Linked DNA regions of Homo sapiens: region 2 is linked to region 1. Evidence: fine-mapped expression QTL. A gene starts in region 1. The other region holds a variant in brackets. All regions are shown on one strand. Distances are from middle to middle. Region 1 holds the start of RXRA (retinoid X receptor alpha). Region 2 overlaps COL5A1 (collagen type V alpha 1 chain).

Evidence for each region.
Region 2: its variant is fine-mapped to the expression of RXRA in cerebellum (GTEx, PIP 0.99).

Annotation. Positions count from the first base shown.
Region 1 is chr9:134,321,950-134,330,267 of GRCh38, reverse strand. It overlaps RXRA (retinoid X receptor alpha), which reads right to left and starts at 3,813. Exons shown (of 10, transcript NM_002957.6): 1 at 3,609-3,813. The coding sequence starts at 3,636. RefSeq lists enhancers at 668-1,597, 1,598-2,527 and silencers at 3,138-3,277, 4,016-4,065, 4,136-4,315.
Region 2 is chr9:134,839,683-134,848,000 of GRCh38, reverse strand. COL5A1 (collagen type V alpha 1 chain) reads right to left here. Exons shown (of 66, transcript NM_000093.5): 66 at 3,158-5,844. The coding sequence ends at 5,698. All of the region lies in intron 1 of LOC101448202 (a long non-coding RNA gene), which reads left to right. Among named protein-coding and RNA genes, the nearest start is that of MIR3689C, 5.5 kb to the left of the region's middle. RefSeq lists enhancers at 2,216-2,716, 5,028-5,862. The variant A/G (reference allele first, on the strand shown) is at 4,804.

The DNA of each region.
Region 1 (8,318 bases):
GGGAAGGAGGGGCAGGTCTTGGCTTGCAAAGCCCGGGTCCCAGGGACAGTGTCCCAGCCCTGAGCCAGCTGGGGGTTGGGGAGGGCCTCTGCCCTGTGTCTGCTGGGACAGCTGTGCCCTCTTCTCCAGAGGACAGGCATTGCTCACCACTCGAGGTCCCAGCCCTGAAACATTTGACCCATGGCAAAACCAAACGTCACCCAAGAAAGGAAACTCCCCAGGCAGCCTCCACTGGCACTGGGTGGACCTGTAAAGCTTTCACCCCGCCCCCACACCACCTTCCATGCAGCTGAGGTCTGTCCCACCCTCTCCTGATGCCAGAGCCCCCTGCCACATGCACGACCAGGCCCCAGGGGCAGAGGGGCACACCCCTGAGTACCCCCTGTTCCCACAGTAATTCCACAGCAAATCCTGCAGGCACCCTTTCCCAGGGGAGGAAACAAAGACCACTGACAGCGACCTCCCACACAGCCACGGGGGAGATGGGGCAGGGGCCAAGAGAGGGCAGTCAGAGGGGCCTCCTGGTGGAGGTGAGCCCCCCACAGGCCCTGAAGGACAGGCACAGCTGGAAGAACCACCAGGTGCTGGCAGAGCCGGGAGCCAGTCACAGCAGCTGCCCGCGTGACCAGGGCTGCCGGCTCAACCTGCACCCCACACCCCAAGGGACTCAGAGCACCCGCCCCCCACCAGCCCTTCCTAGGGGCCCAGCTCGTCCCATCCACATCTGGGCAGAGGGTCACAGCTGCATGCTCGGGTCCAGGCCCAGCAGCCAGCCCTAGGCAAGGTTGGAGGCTAGCAAGCCAGGGCCACCATCGGACTGGGCCATTTTTCTCTCCCTGACACCTCCCCAGTCAACAAACAGGGCCCCTCCAGAGTTTACCAAAACAAACACCCTGCCGTCGGGCAGCGCCCGCGCTAAAAGACGCCCTCGTCAGGCCCGAGCGGGACTCCAAGCCCAGCCTCCTGAGAGTCACATGACCCTGTTATTTCGGGAGGCCCCGGAATGTGCTCTATTTTGGGTCCCAAGGGCTCTGATGTTACCAGAAGCCCCTCACACAGGCTGCAAGCTCACCCAGGCCCCCAAGTGCCCCAACTCCAAGAGTGGTCAGCGGGCCTACAGCTTTGCCACCGGGTCTCTCCACAGGCGCATGGGGTCTGGTGTGGTCTGAGACCTTTGGACTCTGTGGACTCCGCCTGAGTCCCACCATTCAGGATAAGGCCAGCGGGGGCCTTCTCCCCGGCAGGCGTGGGAGCGCGGCCAGCCCCGGGCAGCAGGGCCAGGAAGCTGGGGCTGCCTCTGGCGAGTCCCTCGGCCTTGCTTTCCTTCCAGATCTGGACGCTGCACTCATCCCTGCCCTCACTGAGCGGCTCGGTGGACACCGACTGGGATCCTCTCCCTGCCCACCAAGCCCAGCGGTAGTGAATGCTGGGAGGAGGAAGCCCTCTCTACCCCAGACCCCAAAAGCGGCTGGGCAGCTGTAAGGGGTGGCCGAGTCTCCCCAGCAGCTCCAGGTCTGACCGGTCGGCCAGCCGGGCCAAGACAAGCCAGGCCCTCCACCACCACTCACCCCGAGGAGGGATTAGGCTGTGTTGACAAAAGGGCTTAGAAAAGTAGCCGCTTAAATGGACCTTCGACTGCTCTGGACTTCAGAGCTGGTCACAAGCTTAGAAAAAAAATAAAATGTAATCAGAGCCCAGGGCTCTCTGCTCAGCCCTGGGGCGTGGGCTGCCTGGGAGGCCATGGGCCGGTCGGGAGAGCTGCTGCTCGAGAACAGAAGACTCCTAGCTTCCTTGTGGCAGGGGAGTGCCCAGGGAGATCCCTGGGGCAGTGGCTCGGAGGCACGACCTCTCCTCCTCACAGGGACTCCAGCAAGCCACCATGGCGACTGGGCACCCCTTGCTCCCTCGCCCTACATCCACCAACTCCGTGGACTATCCCTGTCCCACCCGGAGCATTAGAAACAGGGACCTGTTCGGTTCTCAGTACTCAGCTGAAGTGCAACCAGCCAGGCCCCTGCCACGTCCAGGGGCCAGACACTGAGCTGAGCATTCTTGTTCCAGAGGAATCGTCTGGGAGAGCCTAGCTCTGTGTGTGTGGATGTGTGTGTGCACATGTGTGAGTGCAAAGCTTTAACAGGGAAAGGCAGCCCCAGCCCACTCCACACTGCACTCGGTCACAGACAGCGCAGCATTCCCTCCTGCCTCACACTCAGCAGTACCACGAGCTGGGGGTGCTAATCCCAAATCCACCACCTTGTATCCTGGGGGCTCAGCCTCTCCCAGCCAGTTTTCTCATCTGCAAAATGGGCATGAGCGCCCACCCCTGGAGGCTGAGCCCTGGAGCTCATTCAAGGCCTCGAGCCCACCACTCCATCATGACAGAGGCAGGGAGTAAGCGTTAGGTCTGACAAACCTGGAACCCACCGCCTGCCCCGGTCACGGGGCAGCACACCTGCCTGTGAGTAGCAGAGGTACTCAGACTCTCACCCTCACATCCAGGAGGGGCTAGGTCCATGCTGGCTCCCCTTGATGCCCCATCTCACTAAACATCCCTGCAGCTACATTGGCTTCTGAGCACCTCCTGGGGTGGCCAAGCTGCACCCCAGGCTGCAGGGAGGGTGGGCAGGAGGGGCTACGGATGGCGGGGGCTTCATTCATAATCAGCTGTTTCGATTTCCATTCAGCACAAATCCTTCACCCGGCCTGACAGCCTGGCTGCCGTCCCACCACCAAATTAATATCCTTCCCGGAGCTAATTTATAAAGTCTCCCCCTTCTCACTAGCTTCCAAACCCTTGGGAGGGCAATGGGTGGGGGCCCCAGCCATGCCCTCTCCCCCTTCTCGGTAGGTCTGGGCCTGGAGTTGGCGGGCAGTCTGGGATAGGAAGCTACCGGGCGGGATGGCAGGAGGAGGAGGGAAACTGACCCTACGCGCCTCTGCGCTGTCCTGCTCACAAATGGAGAGCCAGCCTGGGAGAACACCCGGGGGTGCCAGAGTGAGGGGCCCCATTTCTGGAATGGGGCCTTCCCAGGTCTGACGTTCTGTTCATACAGCCCCGGGGGACCCTGCCCACCCGGGCGTGGGCTGCTTTGGGGATAACAGGGTCCCAGTCTGTTTCCTGGGCGGACACACACCCAAGGGCCAGCGGCCTGCTAGAAGCCGCAGCCCGACGGGCGGGCGGCGCAGAGGCCGCTCGGGGCCCAGCGCGCCGTCCCGGTCCCCAGGCCAGGGAGGCCGGAGCCGCGGAGCGCAGAAGTTGCTCCTCCCGCTCCGGCCGGGTTCCTGTGCGGCGCGGCTGCAGCTGGGCGCCGGGGCGCAGGCGGCCGCCGGTGAGCGGGAGACCCCTCCTCGTCCCGGGCGAACCTGCCACCCGCCCCCCGGCCCCGCCGCCCGCCCGCTGCCCAGCCCCGCCCCGGCCCCGCGAAAAGTTGCCCCGGGTCGACCCTCCCCGGGCCCGGCGCCCGAACTCACGCGAAGGTCGGCGAGGGGTCCGAGCGGGGCCCGGGCCGGCGACCCCCCGCGCGCGCCGCCAACGCGCCCCCGGCCCCCTCCCGCCCGCCGGCCCCCGGCCCCCGGCCCCGTCCCCGCCCGGCCCGGCGAGCACTCACCGAGCGGCAGGAAATGTTTGGTGTCCATGTCTGCGACTAACTCATGCCCGGCCGGCGGCGCAGGCAGCGGGCGGCGGGCGCGGCGGCCCCCGGCGCGGCCGGCCCGGGCCCGGGCGGCGGGGAGCCGGCGGCTGCGGTGGCGGCGGCGGCGCGCGGAGGCCGCGGCGCGGCGAGTTGTTGCAAAAGTCGCCCAACAATGTAAACTACTTGTGTCTGCGCGCCGCCGCCGCGCGCGCCCGGCCCGCGCCCCCGCCGCCGCGCGCCCGCGCCCCGCTCCGACCGCGGCGCTGCGGCGCCGGCGGGGGGGTGGCGGGGGGCCCGCGACGGGCGCTGACTCGGCGCAGCGCCGCCGCCACCGCTCGGCCCGCGCCCCGCCCGCCCAGCCCCGCCCGGAGCGCGCCCCCCTCCGCCGCCGCCGCCCCGCGATCGCCGCCCGCCCGGCCGCCGAGTTGAGAGCGCCGTGCAAACTTGCGAGTTCGCCTCCGCCAGGGGTTCCCGGGAGCCGCGAGGAGGCGGCGTGGGAGGGGGCGGGGCGCAGAGGGAGCGGGGCGGGGGCGGGGGCGGGAGCAGAACTCCCTCCCCGGGCCCGCCACACACTCGCGCACACACACACTTGCGCGCAAGGGCCCGGAGGAGGCGGAGAGCCGGGCCGGGAGCCCAGCGGCCGGGCCATTGTCTGCGCGGCCACACAAAGCGGCCGGGCGGTGGCCGCGAGGGGACCCCGGCCCGGGCCAGGCAAGCGCAGAGCCGGGCGGGATGGCCGCGGCACCCATACCTCGCACCCCGCCGCGGCGGACACGTGGGGAAACTGAGGCCCGGGAGTGGCGATGTGCCCCAACGGCAGAGGACAAGCTCCTCGTCCGGGGAAGGTTTCGTCTTCCGGACGCTACCCCCGGTCCACCCCACACTTTCACGCCCTACCCCCACGGAGAGACCCACGAGCCCACCGGGAACGAGGAGGGGTGCGCGCTTCGCCTCCTCATCGACCCGCACTCCTGGGACCCCTCTTCAAAGGCACCAGGCTGGGCAGGCGCTGCCCGGAGTTGGACACAGACTTTGTGGCCGGTGGCTATTTTTATACCCTGGGTAGTTCTCTGCCTGACTTTTAAATTCACGATTTGTTTGAAAACGAAAGGAAGCACTCCTGCCCCGGGACAGCTCGGGCCGCCTCCGCCGCGCGCCGCCCGCCGCCCGCCGTCTCGGGCGGCTGGAATTCGGATTTGGGTGTGAGCTACCTGCGCGCCGCCAAGCCCAGCCTTCCTGAGCAGGCGCCGAGGCGCCCCGCCGCGCCCTCCCTCCGCACCCCCACCGCGAGCTTGCTGACCACCTAGACCTAAGGGCCCGGGCTGCGAGGCACAGGGACTGACCATTCACGCAGGCTGCGCGTGGTGGCCCGGGTCAGGGGACGCTAATGGGGAGGGAGGTGAGGAGGTGATGACCGCGTGTGGACAGCCATGACACGGCCCAAAGATAACAGCCCGAGACCAGAGAGGTGTCCTGCTGCCTGGGTGCCCCTCAAGTCGGGCCACCCGGAGCTGGGTTCCACGAGGGCTCCGGTGGCCTGTTCCGGTGGGAGGTCTTGGTTCCACTTGGGACAGAAGTGCCCTGGTTGGGCAGCCCACCCCCAGCACAGCCAGAGCCCAAGGCAGCCCTCTCCCCCTCCCCCTCTTCACTGACCCCTGGGCCCCTACCAAAGGCCACCCCGTCCCCCTATTCACACACCCTGTCCAACAGGCAGCCTGCCCCACTCCCTCCGGGATGAGGGCCACTGTTGACACCTGGTCCTCACCCACTGTGGTTACAGCCACAACAGACCCACTTCCCCACTGCACATGGCATGCCGGCCCAACCCACTGCCCTTCTAAAACTGAGTTCCTCCTGCCAGGGAGGGGGGCGGCAAACAAAGGATAGGACTGAGAAAGAGCCCCCGTAAGCACCAACATACACTGCAAAAGTGCCATGTGCCCGCCGCGTTCCAGGCCTGTCTCTGTGACTGCTTGGGCCCCTCCTGACTGTACTCAGGTTGGGGGGTTGGGGGGGAGTCCCAGATAGACAAGGCCTGGGCCAGATTGCAGGTCCACCTCCTACCAACCGTGTGGCCTAGCTGGGTCACTTCCCTCCTTGTATCTCAGTTTTCTCATCTGTAAAGTGGGAACAACCACTCCCTCCTCACTGAGTCACTGAGATGACTAAGTGAGATAATATGGAGAGTCTGCGCTCGGGAGGACGAGCTCGGTGTGACAGTTATTGTGATGATGATGATGATGAAATGACGCTGAATTAGGCAGGCCGTTCGCCTATGCTCAGTGCAGGGAGAGCAAGGCTCTATCCAGCCAAAGGGCTCAGGCAGCTTTTGGGATCACTGGTTCTTGAGTCAGGTTTTGGAGCAGGGAGGTTCCATCAGGCAGTGGCCGCCCAGGCAGCAGGGCCGGCTGAGCAGCGGCCTGCAGAGAGAAGGAGCAGCAGGCCGCGGACGGCAGGTCAGGACACGCCAGGCAATGGTGGGAAGGCTGGGCTGAAGTGTCTGAGGTCACCTCCCAATAGTGGGCGGTGTGGCATGCTGGACTCTCCACCCCACCCCCATCTCACTCCTTGTCCCTGAAAACTCAAGACTCAGGAGCTGTTGGTGCCTGGAGTCGGGGAGGCACATGCAGACAGATTTCCATGTGGGTTCCTCCTGGGAAGGCTGAAGGTTCCAGAAGGGCCCTCTGTTCCTAAGAAACACCGGAAGGCGTCATCCCCTGCTCTAGAGACCACGTGGAGAGCGCACGGAGTCCGGAGTCCTGCAGATCTGGGCTCACATCCAGCCTCTGTGCCCACAGACGGTGAATGGCTCTCAGCCCCGCCCTTCTCTTCCATGGGGCAGGGGCCTGGGTGCTCGGCCGCCGAAAACACACCAGGTCCTTGATGGAAAATGACGATGCCGCTTGTTATTTCTGTGGCCACTACTTTTTATCCTCCCCCTCAGTTTGGAGCTTTTTGGTGCAAATGATTCTACACGAAACCTCCCGGGATAGTGGCTGCCCCATATGAAATGGCCAGGTCTGAGCCAGCCATGGAAAAAAACACCCCAGCCTTCCCACCATGTGCTGCTACAGCCAAAACTATTTTTATAGTAGTATCCATTTATTCACAACCTGCGATCTAAGAAGGTTTTGTTTTTTTGTTTTTTTGTTTGGGTCTTTTTTTTTTTAATTTCCCTGAGGGACGCTTTTTAAGGTACTTTGGCCTATTTCATATGCCTGTCTCGGCTCAGTCTTGTAAACAGTCCCGGGAATTGCTTGTTGAATAATATTTTTAAAGGCTGGTCTCTGTGCTGGCTGAGCATGAGGAAGCTGGCGTCTGGGTGGACTGCTCCCAGAAGTTCCCAGGACACCAACGGGGCTCTAAGCTGCTTCCAGAGGTTCCCTGTGGTCCTGAGCTGGTCACTAGCAGGACCTCACAGGGGTTTGGGGAGCTCAGCCTCCAACAAGGGAGGCCAAGGGCTTGGGTACTGCTGGGCAAGGTGGCCCGATCTGTCCCCAAGCACCTCAGCCTAAGGGGACTCTCTCTCACATCCGTTGTGGCTCCTTTGGGGACAACACCTTTTGTCTGTGGTGACCGATGATGACTCGAGCTGGGAAGTAGAGCCGAAAGCTCAGAGAGGCAAGGGGCCACCCGGCAGGTCCACATGGAACTGGGACTAGGCCCAGGGGTCCCAGCCCGAACCCCCTTTCTCAGTCATAGCTTGTCTCTCCATCAGTCTAGAGGGAAACACTCAAGCCACTTGTCCACACCTGGGCTCCAGTCTGTTCTGCTGAGTGGAGAGGAAGAGAAAGGATAGGAGGGAGGGGAGAGGAGAGGACAGGAGGGGAGGAGGAGGAAGAGAAGAGGACCCCTCTGCTCCTGGGTCTGGCCCTCTGGCAAAATGTTTGCAGGCCTGCAGGGCAGTCACCACTGACAGCGTCTGCCCTGGTAGCAGTCAGCTGGCTGGCCCTGCACACCCCAAACCCAAAGCAGTGCAGGGGAAGAGAAAGGTGAGGTCCTCCGAAGGCCAGCCGCTGCCTCCGTCATCAGCTGGGGTCTTACTTCCAGAACTCTGGGGAGCTGAATGGTGGCGTGAGCCAAAGAGTTCAGGTGAGTGAGGCTTAAGGGGACAGGAGCTGGTTTGTAATGAAGAGCCAGGATTTCAGTGCAGCTCCAGGCAAGAGACAGTGGGTTCCCTCCAGGGGCCACCAAAGAGCCCCACCGAATCCCAGCGCCAGCCGCAAGGGGTCACAGATGCTCAAAGAAGGGCAGGAACAGTTCTGAGAGTCCGGAGAGGAGGAACCTGAGCTTTCCAAGCTGCCTCCGAGGTGCCAGTCTGCTGCACACTGCCAGGTACCATCCCCTCTAACCCCACCCCGGCTGACCAAGACTCTGGTTTCCCCGTTTCCCAGATGGAAACACTGAGGCGAAGAGCAGCAGTGACTGACTCCAAACCGTGTGGTGACTCTGGCACCACAGTCCCCAGACCCAGGGCTGAGGTCAGTGGTCAGAACCCCCAGGAAAGACCCCAGACAACCACCGACCTCCGCCCCCAGCCTCCAATGAGCCACACCACCTCCCCGCTTCTCATGGCACAGGTCGGCCAGCCAAAGCAGCCGGTGCCAGGTGAGACCAAAGTCCAGAGAGAAGGGACATAGGTAACAGACTTGGAAAACAAGGTGCTGGGGAAGGTACCAGGAGGAA
Region 2 (8,318 bases), 520 kb before region 1:
CGGAGTGTGACCCACTCTCATGGGTCTGCACCGCCCCCAGCCTGCGTCTGGGTTACTGCCCCGTGTGGCTTCCCTCCCCATCTCTGCTCAGGCCACACCAGCCCCCTCCCACTTCCCCTTCCTCTCCCCACTCCCTCTGGCCTCTGCCCTGCTGTTCCCTCTCCTGCAAAGCCCTTCCTGCCCGCTGGGCTCCAGGCAGAGAGAACCTTCCCAGTGGCCCTGGTCACCCAGGAGAGCACTTCAATCCCCACCCCACACACACTACACACCCCATACACACAGGCACACACACCACACCCACACACACACTATACAGACACAGCACAAACCACACACACAGGCATGCACACTATACACATGCAGCACACACCACACACACAGGCACATTCCCCACAGGCACGCACACATATACCATACACACGCCAGCACACACACCACACAGGCACATGCACAAACACCACCTCCACACACAGGCATACACCACACACACACACACCACACACACCACACACACAGGCACACACACCACATACACAGGCACAGCTCCCCACAGGCACACACACACACCACACAGGCACACCACACACACAGGTACACACACAACACACATACACTTCACATAAACACAAATAGCACATGCAAAATACACCACATAGCACATGCACACACGTGCCATACACACATGCACATCACCCCCCCCACACACACACAACCACACACATGCACATTGTCTCCTCCCCTTTACATTTCCTCAGGTCTCATTCCTCTGGGCACACCTTACCCCTGCCTTGTGGGTCTTGGTCAGCCCGTGTCCCCTGGAGTGGCATCTCCTTGAGGGTGGGTTCTCCCCTGCTGCTCCCGCCTGGCACACAGCAGGTGGTCAATGAACTGCCACTGAAGGAATGGGGGAATGAATGGATGAATGAAAGAGTGGATGGATGGATGGATGGATGGATGGATGGATGGATGGATAAATGATGAATAGATGGATGGATGGATAGATGAATGGATGGATAGATGGATGGACAGATAAATGATGAATAGATGGATGAATGGATGGATGAATGAATGAATGGATGAACAGATGAATGAAAGGGTGAACGAATGTGTGGATGGATGGATGGATAAATGATGAATAGATTAATAGATGGATGAATGGATGAATGAATGGATGAATGAAAGGGTGAATGGATGAATGGATGGATGGATGGATGAATGGATGGATAAATGATGAATAGATGAATGGATAGATAGATGAATGGATGAAAGGGTGAATGGATGGATAGATGAATGGATGGATGAACAGATGAATGAATGGATGTGGTGGCAGAACTCCTTGGGGCCAGTGGGAGGAGGAAGGCAAGGAAGGCAGACTGGGGGCATGCACCCTCCCTCCAGGGTTCCTTCTCCCCAGGAAACTTCCCAGAGCTGTCACCTACAACCCCGAGAAATCGTGGGAGTCCCCTTGCATGACGGGTGCGAGGGGAGTCCCACAACTCTGGGCCACAACTGTGCCATGGCTCAGCCACCGGCCGAGTGGACCTCAAGCCTCCTGCTGCCTGGGATGGTCAAAGGGTCATTGTGAGTCTGAGCCACTGACTCCTCCAGACCAGGCTGGGGCCCCTCTGCAGGATGCCTCTCCGGAGGACAGATCAGCTGCCCACCTGTGCATTTCTGGCCGCTCCACCAGCAGGCACCACGCCGACTGTCCGCCCACCTGCCTTGCTCTCTCTCCTCTTCTGGATTCGATGGCAAGGACCTTCAGACCCATCAACCTTTGACGACTGTGAGCGTCCATTGCCGGAGTCGCTTTCCCAACTCAAATGCATTTATTAGGCGCCATCCTAATCTACTCCAGGATTTTAAGAAAGGGGTGGGCTGCTCAAATTCATGACGACTGAGTTTTAACTGGCGTTTGTCCCTCAAGGCGTCTCTCAATGTGGTCTTTAAACAGTTGATGTTGGGAAACGGTTGCCTCTTCCAACTCTGCGCATCCTTGATTCGTGGGCCGTTTCCTTTCATTCCTGGCTCTTTCCAGAGCTGGTCTGCCACGTGGTACCTTGCCACATGGAATTCAGGCATCCAGCCTGCCCACCATCATTTCATGTCAAGCCTCCTCCCCAAGGGTTGCAAGTTATGAGTTCATAATCTACCTCTGAGCTATCACAGTGATCAAACAATTGTACCCAATGTTCTGCCTGTGGATGACATGGGTCAACAGCCTCCCATCCTCTCACAATGGCCCCAGCTTCCCTGGGCAATGCTGCAGACCACCCTTCTGTTGTGAAAGTCGCCTCGTCCTTAAGCACCTACACAATTCCGGATCACCTAGGTTACTGGCTCTCCGGCTTGAACGTGCAGCAGAGTTGCTCAGAGACCTGCTTTCAGATGATTCAGCTCTCCCACAACATTTGGGCCAGCAGGTCTGGGATGGGGCTCAGGGACTGGCACTTCTAACAAGGTGGTGCCATTGCTGCCATTCCCCGGACCCTGCTGGAGACCCACTGGCCTAGGTTATTCGGCAGAGTAATCAACAGTCCCTGACATCAGTGGCTTTAATAAAACAAAAATGTGCTTCTCCTGCTCCTGCTACCAGTTCTCACAAGCTGGCAGGGGGCTCACTCAGGGAACCTGCTGGTGACGTAGCCCCTCCACGAAACATGGCTGGTGCTGTGCCCGAGGGAACCACACCTTCAGACCGGAAGAGGCGAATGCCACGTGGGCTCAAGGTCATCGGCTGCAACGAGCCCCGTGCCTTCCCCGACCTCTAGCCACAAGGAGCTAGGGAGTCTAATCCTGCTACACAGCTGGAAGGGCAGTGCTGGAGAGCTTCAAGAACATTCTCGCAGGGTGCTGACTGCCAGGAGTGAAGAGTGAGGACAGTACACGGTGGTGTGGACACCCAGCAGTGGCTGAAACTCACTTCTCGGGCTAGTGCCCGGTTACGTTCTAACATCCTCCCAAGGGCACAAAGCTGTCCATGCCAGCCTTGGCCACTCCTGAGGGACAAGCTCCACCTAAGGACAGCCGGGGCCATCCCTTCCTTTCTCTGGGTGGCCAGTGTGGTTATCTCCAGAGCTCCTAGCGTCCTGGGACTGTGTGCAGTCCTGTCTGGGAGGGGCCTGGCCACACTTAAGAAGAGAGTCACTCACATCTGTTTACGGTGGAAACACCCAACTCGATTTATTGAAAAACTATTACAGTTAATTATTCCTTTGTTACACAAGTTTAGAATATTTTAAGATATCCTTTCCTGGGCATTACAGTTAAAACTTATGACATGTCTAGCGGATTTTTTGAAACCGTACAATGTGTCATTTGACATTGTATTTCAAAAGGCCTGATGTCCTCGAAACTTTATCTTGGGTTTTTTGCTTACCATTTTTTTCTTTTTGCCAGCGTTTGTCCAATTATATATATTGAGAGGAAAAAATAAAATTACACCAAAAGAATTTCTGCAAATATAAGAAGTAATTTTATTGCAATATACTGTGGCTAGAGTGGTCTGGGGAGAACGGGACACATTTTGAAGTTCAGTACAAATTATAACAACTTTGAAGGGACCACAGAGGAAGAAAATGACAGGAGAAAAGGACAAATTGGATGGGATGAGAAATGAAAACAGAATCACATGACCTAGACGCAGTCCACGGGGGTCGCGGGACAGTCCTCGGCTATGGCTTTTCTTTTGAAGAGATGAAGGTGACAGTCATTGGCACATGCTGGCATCCTGGGCTCCAGAGACTCTCCAAGCCAGACTTTTCTTTGGCAAGAGCGAGACTTACTTTCCAGGGAAATTTGGAAAATCCACGCTGGCGGTGTTTTGTTCCTCCTGGGTGGCTTGTTTGTGGCTTCCTAAGCTGGAACTGCATTCTGGTGGTGGTGGGGGTCGGGGACAGCACCAGAGCCCCGCAGGCTCACCCCAAGGGCCCAGCCTGCATTTCCCATGGTAGAAGGAAAAGGCGCTGCACCCGGGCAACTTTTCACAGTGAAGAGATCGCCTTTCCTGGCTGCCCCTCGGGTCCTCCTGCCCACAGACGGCAGCCCCCCGACCTCGATGGCCAGGAAAGGGTTCCCCAAAGGGGACCTCACCCGCCCCGAGCTCTGGAGCCGCTGACGCTCGCATCCAGGACATTTGAGATGGGAATCCAAATAGGCTACTTGGAAAAGACGTGCTGCAGGCAGCCCTGGAGAGACTCATGGAGTTCATTGTACATTACTCCATCTACCGAGGCAGCGCATGGCATGACTGAACGGCTTGGAACAAACACAGAAATTAGCACCACAAACATTCAGGAACCAAATATAATCTGCTATGGTCACACCACAGACAATGCAGGAAGAGGCTTTTTATTGCTTGTGTGTGTTTTCAAATCAAGTAGGCACAACCCAGTCCTCATAACAGCCCTCGGGAGTGGACGCACCGGGGCGGGAGAGCGCAGGAGGGAGTGTGCTTGGCTATCCTGCCCAGTGGAAAGGAAAGTGACGTGCATTGATCTTAGAGTCCTTGGCAACAGACTGTGGAGGCAATAACAGGATAAAGAAAGCAGGGAGAACGAGGCATGGCCAGGGTCCCCAGTGCGCCTTCAAGGAGACCTTAAAACAGATAGATAGCACCACAAGAGAGCCACAAGAGAGAAGTGTAAAAAATAAGCACCAATTTTCATTGAGTTATCACCTACAAAAAATGTGGTTTCCCTGCCCTGGACATTCTCCCATCAGGCTCTGCGGGAAGAAAAGCGGAAAAAGGAAGCAAATAAAATTAATCCAAACCTGTGTTTTAGTCTTAAGTGCATGTAGAAA[A/G]AAGAAAATTATCAAATTTTTTCCCTATTAAAAAAAAAAAAAGTCTAGAGCGAATCAAAAACTGTCTGAAAAGGGGCACTGGTACCTGCTTTTCAATGGCAGCATAAATTCTTGCTGCCCCGGGGCAAACTTCCAATTTATTGCACGTTCTTGGCCAGGGCGGGGGTGGGGAGACTTCCTATTTCTAATCAGAACGGTACTGCAACCCAGAATCCATGCCTCGCCCATTCTGTCCGTGGGACTGAGACTGGGTTTCCGTGCATGATTGAAAGCCAGGCACACTTAACATTTATAACAATACAATACAAATATTTACTTAAAACTCACAAAAACATAAGCACCTTTAATCCATCGGGAAGGCACCTGCAGAATGACATTTGGCCTCTAAATGGATCGTGTTGGAGGTTGTTAAAAACGGAGGCTTTGGTGATGGTGGGATGACCTTTACGAGGCTTACCTTGGAACATTTTTTGAAGGTCAGGGGAAATACACATCTTCAAGTTGAATTTAGAAAAAAATATAGTGTCCAAATCTGGCAGTCCCTCCCCCAACCCCTGAGACCTATTCACGAACAGGATGGGTCGGGCGAGCTGGGGGGCTGGAGGCATGGCCCCGCTCCCGGGGCGCGTGGGTGTGGACAGAGCGTGGGGCGGGCCCAGGCGCTGGGGTGCAGCTAGGTCATGTGATTCAGCTCCAGGTGGGGGCGCGGCTCCTTCCCTCTGTTCTCTCCGGGCTGGGGTCCCACACCCCGTGGTGCCGAGGCGTAGATGAAGTCAGGTGGGAGGGGAGGGAGAAGCCTTCACTGTCCAGGGTCAGGACGTGCACGGGACACTCACGAACGAATGGCATGCTGAGGTCACGAGGTTGCTCTCGGGAGCCCGGGCTCGGCGGCTCCTAGCCCATGAAGCAAGCCGGCCCCACTTCAAATCCAAATTTCTGTGACGCTTCACCGAAGTCATTGAACATGATGTCCACGATGGGCACCTGCTCCACTTTGGGGGTGTCGATCTCCAGAACCGTCTTCTGGTAGCCTTTCTTGGTCTGGGGAAGAGGGAGACAGATGGCCGGTGGTTAAGAACAGTTGGGGGTCTTGGGGTTTACCAATCACCCCCCACAATCTGTCTGGCTCCAAAACCCAGGCTGGTGTCCTGTCTCCTACCCAGGGCTGCGCTTGCCCGGGCAAGTGTTGGAGGAAATATGGCTGATCAGAGCATGCATTTAACCCCGGTGGATGTCCCAAGAGTCCCCCTGCACAGGTCGGAGGTGGGGTGGTGTGGGCATCAGCGAGGCGACAGGACCCTCCCAAGGCTTCAGGGGTGGCTGAGGCACACACAGGATTGAAGCTGATCAGCCTTCCCACCGTGCCCAGTCCAGACTCCTTGTGATGCCCCAGGTATTCACTTCCAGGCAGCCTCCCCAGGACCCAGGGCCAGCTACAGAACAAGCAGGGCACACTGGAAAATCAAACGGGGGCTCCAGGTTCGAAAAGGAAGGAGTCCGAGGCGGCACCGGCAGAGCCTTGAGCCAAGTAAGACCCCCCTACGACCACCTGCCACACACTGCCTTAGGCACTCGGTGGGCTGGGTCTTCACCTCCACAAGTATGGGAAGGGGTGGGGACCTTCCACACCATCTGGTCTAGAGGAGTCTTAGGTAAACTGAGGCACAGAGGGCAGGGGTAGTGCAATGAACCTGGCCTGCAGGATGAGTCAGCACCCATCCCTTGCTCAAAACAGCACAACCCTGGGCGCTGGGATGTGGGATGGAAGCCTAGGAGAGGCCGCCTCCCTCCCAGAACACAGGCAGCGCAGGTGTGAGATTCTTTGGTCCCTCCCCAAAGCCACCCAAATATAACTCCCAGTGTTCTTTATAACTGAGGCTGAGCTGGCCCTGCTGTCCCGTCAACTTCCCCCAAGACAAGGGCCCTGGAGGCCGCACCTTTCCCGCAAACCAGGAGCCTGCAAACGCATCCTGGGCAGATGGCTTTTGCTACCTCAGACCCAGACTGGATTTACAGTCGCAGCTGGATCTGGGCCTGGGAAGGATCTCCTTCCACTGCCCCATCCCCAAAAGAAATGATCAGATAAACAAGTAGGGGCCAGCCAGGGTTCCCTCCCGGATGGGAGGCAGTGACCCCAGGATGCAGCCCTGCAGAGGGCCCAGCGCAGACTCCCAGGCCGGAGATTCGGATAGCAGACAGCAGCTCCAGCTCTCCCGGTATTCTGCTCCCTGACCTATGGGGAGGGCGTGGCCTTGAAGGGCCTTATTCTCCCTGACTATGATCTTAATGTTCCCGTTCCCAAAGATGGTATTAGGAGGTGGGGCCGTTCGATGGGAGTTGAGGAGGTCCTGAGGGTGGAACCCCATGAGTGGTATTAGTGCCCCTATAAAAGAGGCACCCGAGAGACTCCACCCTGTGAGGGTGTAGTGAGAAGCTGCTATCTGCAGCCCAGAGGGGAGCTCACCAGAGCCTGCCTTGCCAGCAACCTGCTCACAGACTTCCAGCCTCCAGAACTGTGGGCGACAAATTTCTGTTGCTTATGAGCCACGCAGCTGGCGAGATTTGTCGTGGCAGCGAATGGACCTAAGACAGACCCTGAGCTAGAGCCAGCCAGCTGCACCTCTCCCAGGCTTCTGACCCTCGGACATGGGGTGACGTAACGAACATCTGTGGTTTTAAGCTGCTAAATTTGGGGGGCTAGTTGATTACAAGCAATGGATAACCGATACGCTTTCTGTGACTCAGTTTCCTCAGCTGGAAAATGGGCATGCTCACATCACAGAGGCGCTGTGAGAAGGAATGAAGCTCACCTCCCTGCATGCGTTCCTGCTATTATCCATGAGAGTCCCAAACTTCACCTCCTAATGTCCACTTCTCCCCTGACCCTGCCCTTCTCACAACCCTGCCTTGATAGGAACACCTTTCTGTTACTGCAGCTGGCTCAGCCTGGCATGATTTTCAAGTTGGGATTGGAACTTCAGAGAGAACGCGAGTTCTCAGGGAGCTTGTTAACCCCCTACAGCTCTGACCCCTGCCCAGAGAGGCTGACTCCGTCTGGCTGGGGTGGGACTCGGAATCTGCATTTTAAAAAATGGGTGTCTCAGACAATTCTGATAGGCGTGGTCATGACTGGCCTTTGAGAAACGCTGTCCTAAAGGACCTCGCCATGGGGCACCCCCGGACTTGACAGCAAAACACACAGTTCCACAGAATGCCGAGTGTGGGGCAGACGGCACCCTGTGGCCAGCTCAGCCCTGCAGAACACAGCTGGGATGCTGCTGTCCCACAAGCCCGCCTGGGGGTGGCCACAGCTCTCCTGTGGAACGGAGGGCAGGGGCCAGTTGCAGCTCTGCGGTGGCTGGGAAGGATAGGTGGGCAGCGGGGCTGGACACAGGATATTCAATGAGAGGTGGCCATCCACACCCTCCAGGGGTGAACCCTGAGGGTACCAACCTCCTCACCCTCCCCACCGGCGAGGAGCCAGAGACCACCCTGCCTGCCTCTCCTCCGGCCTC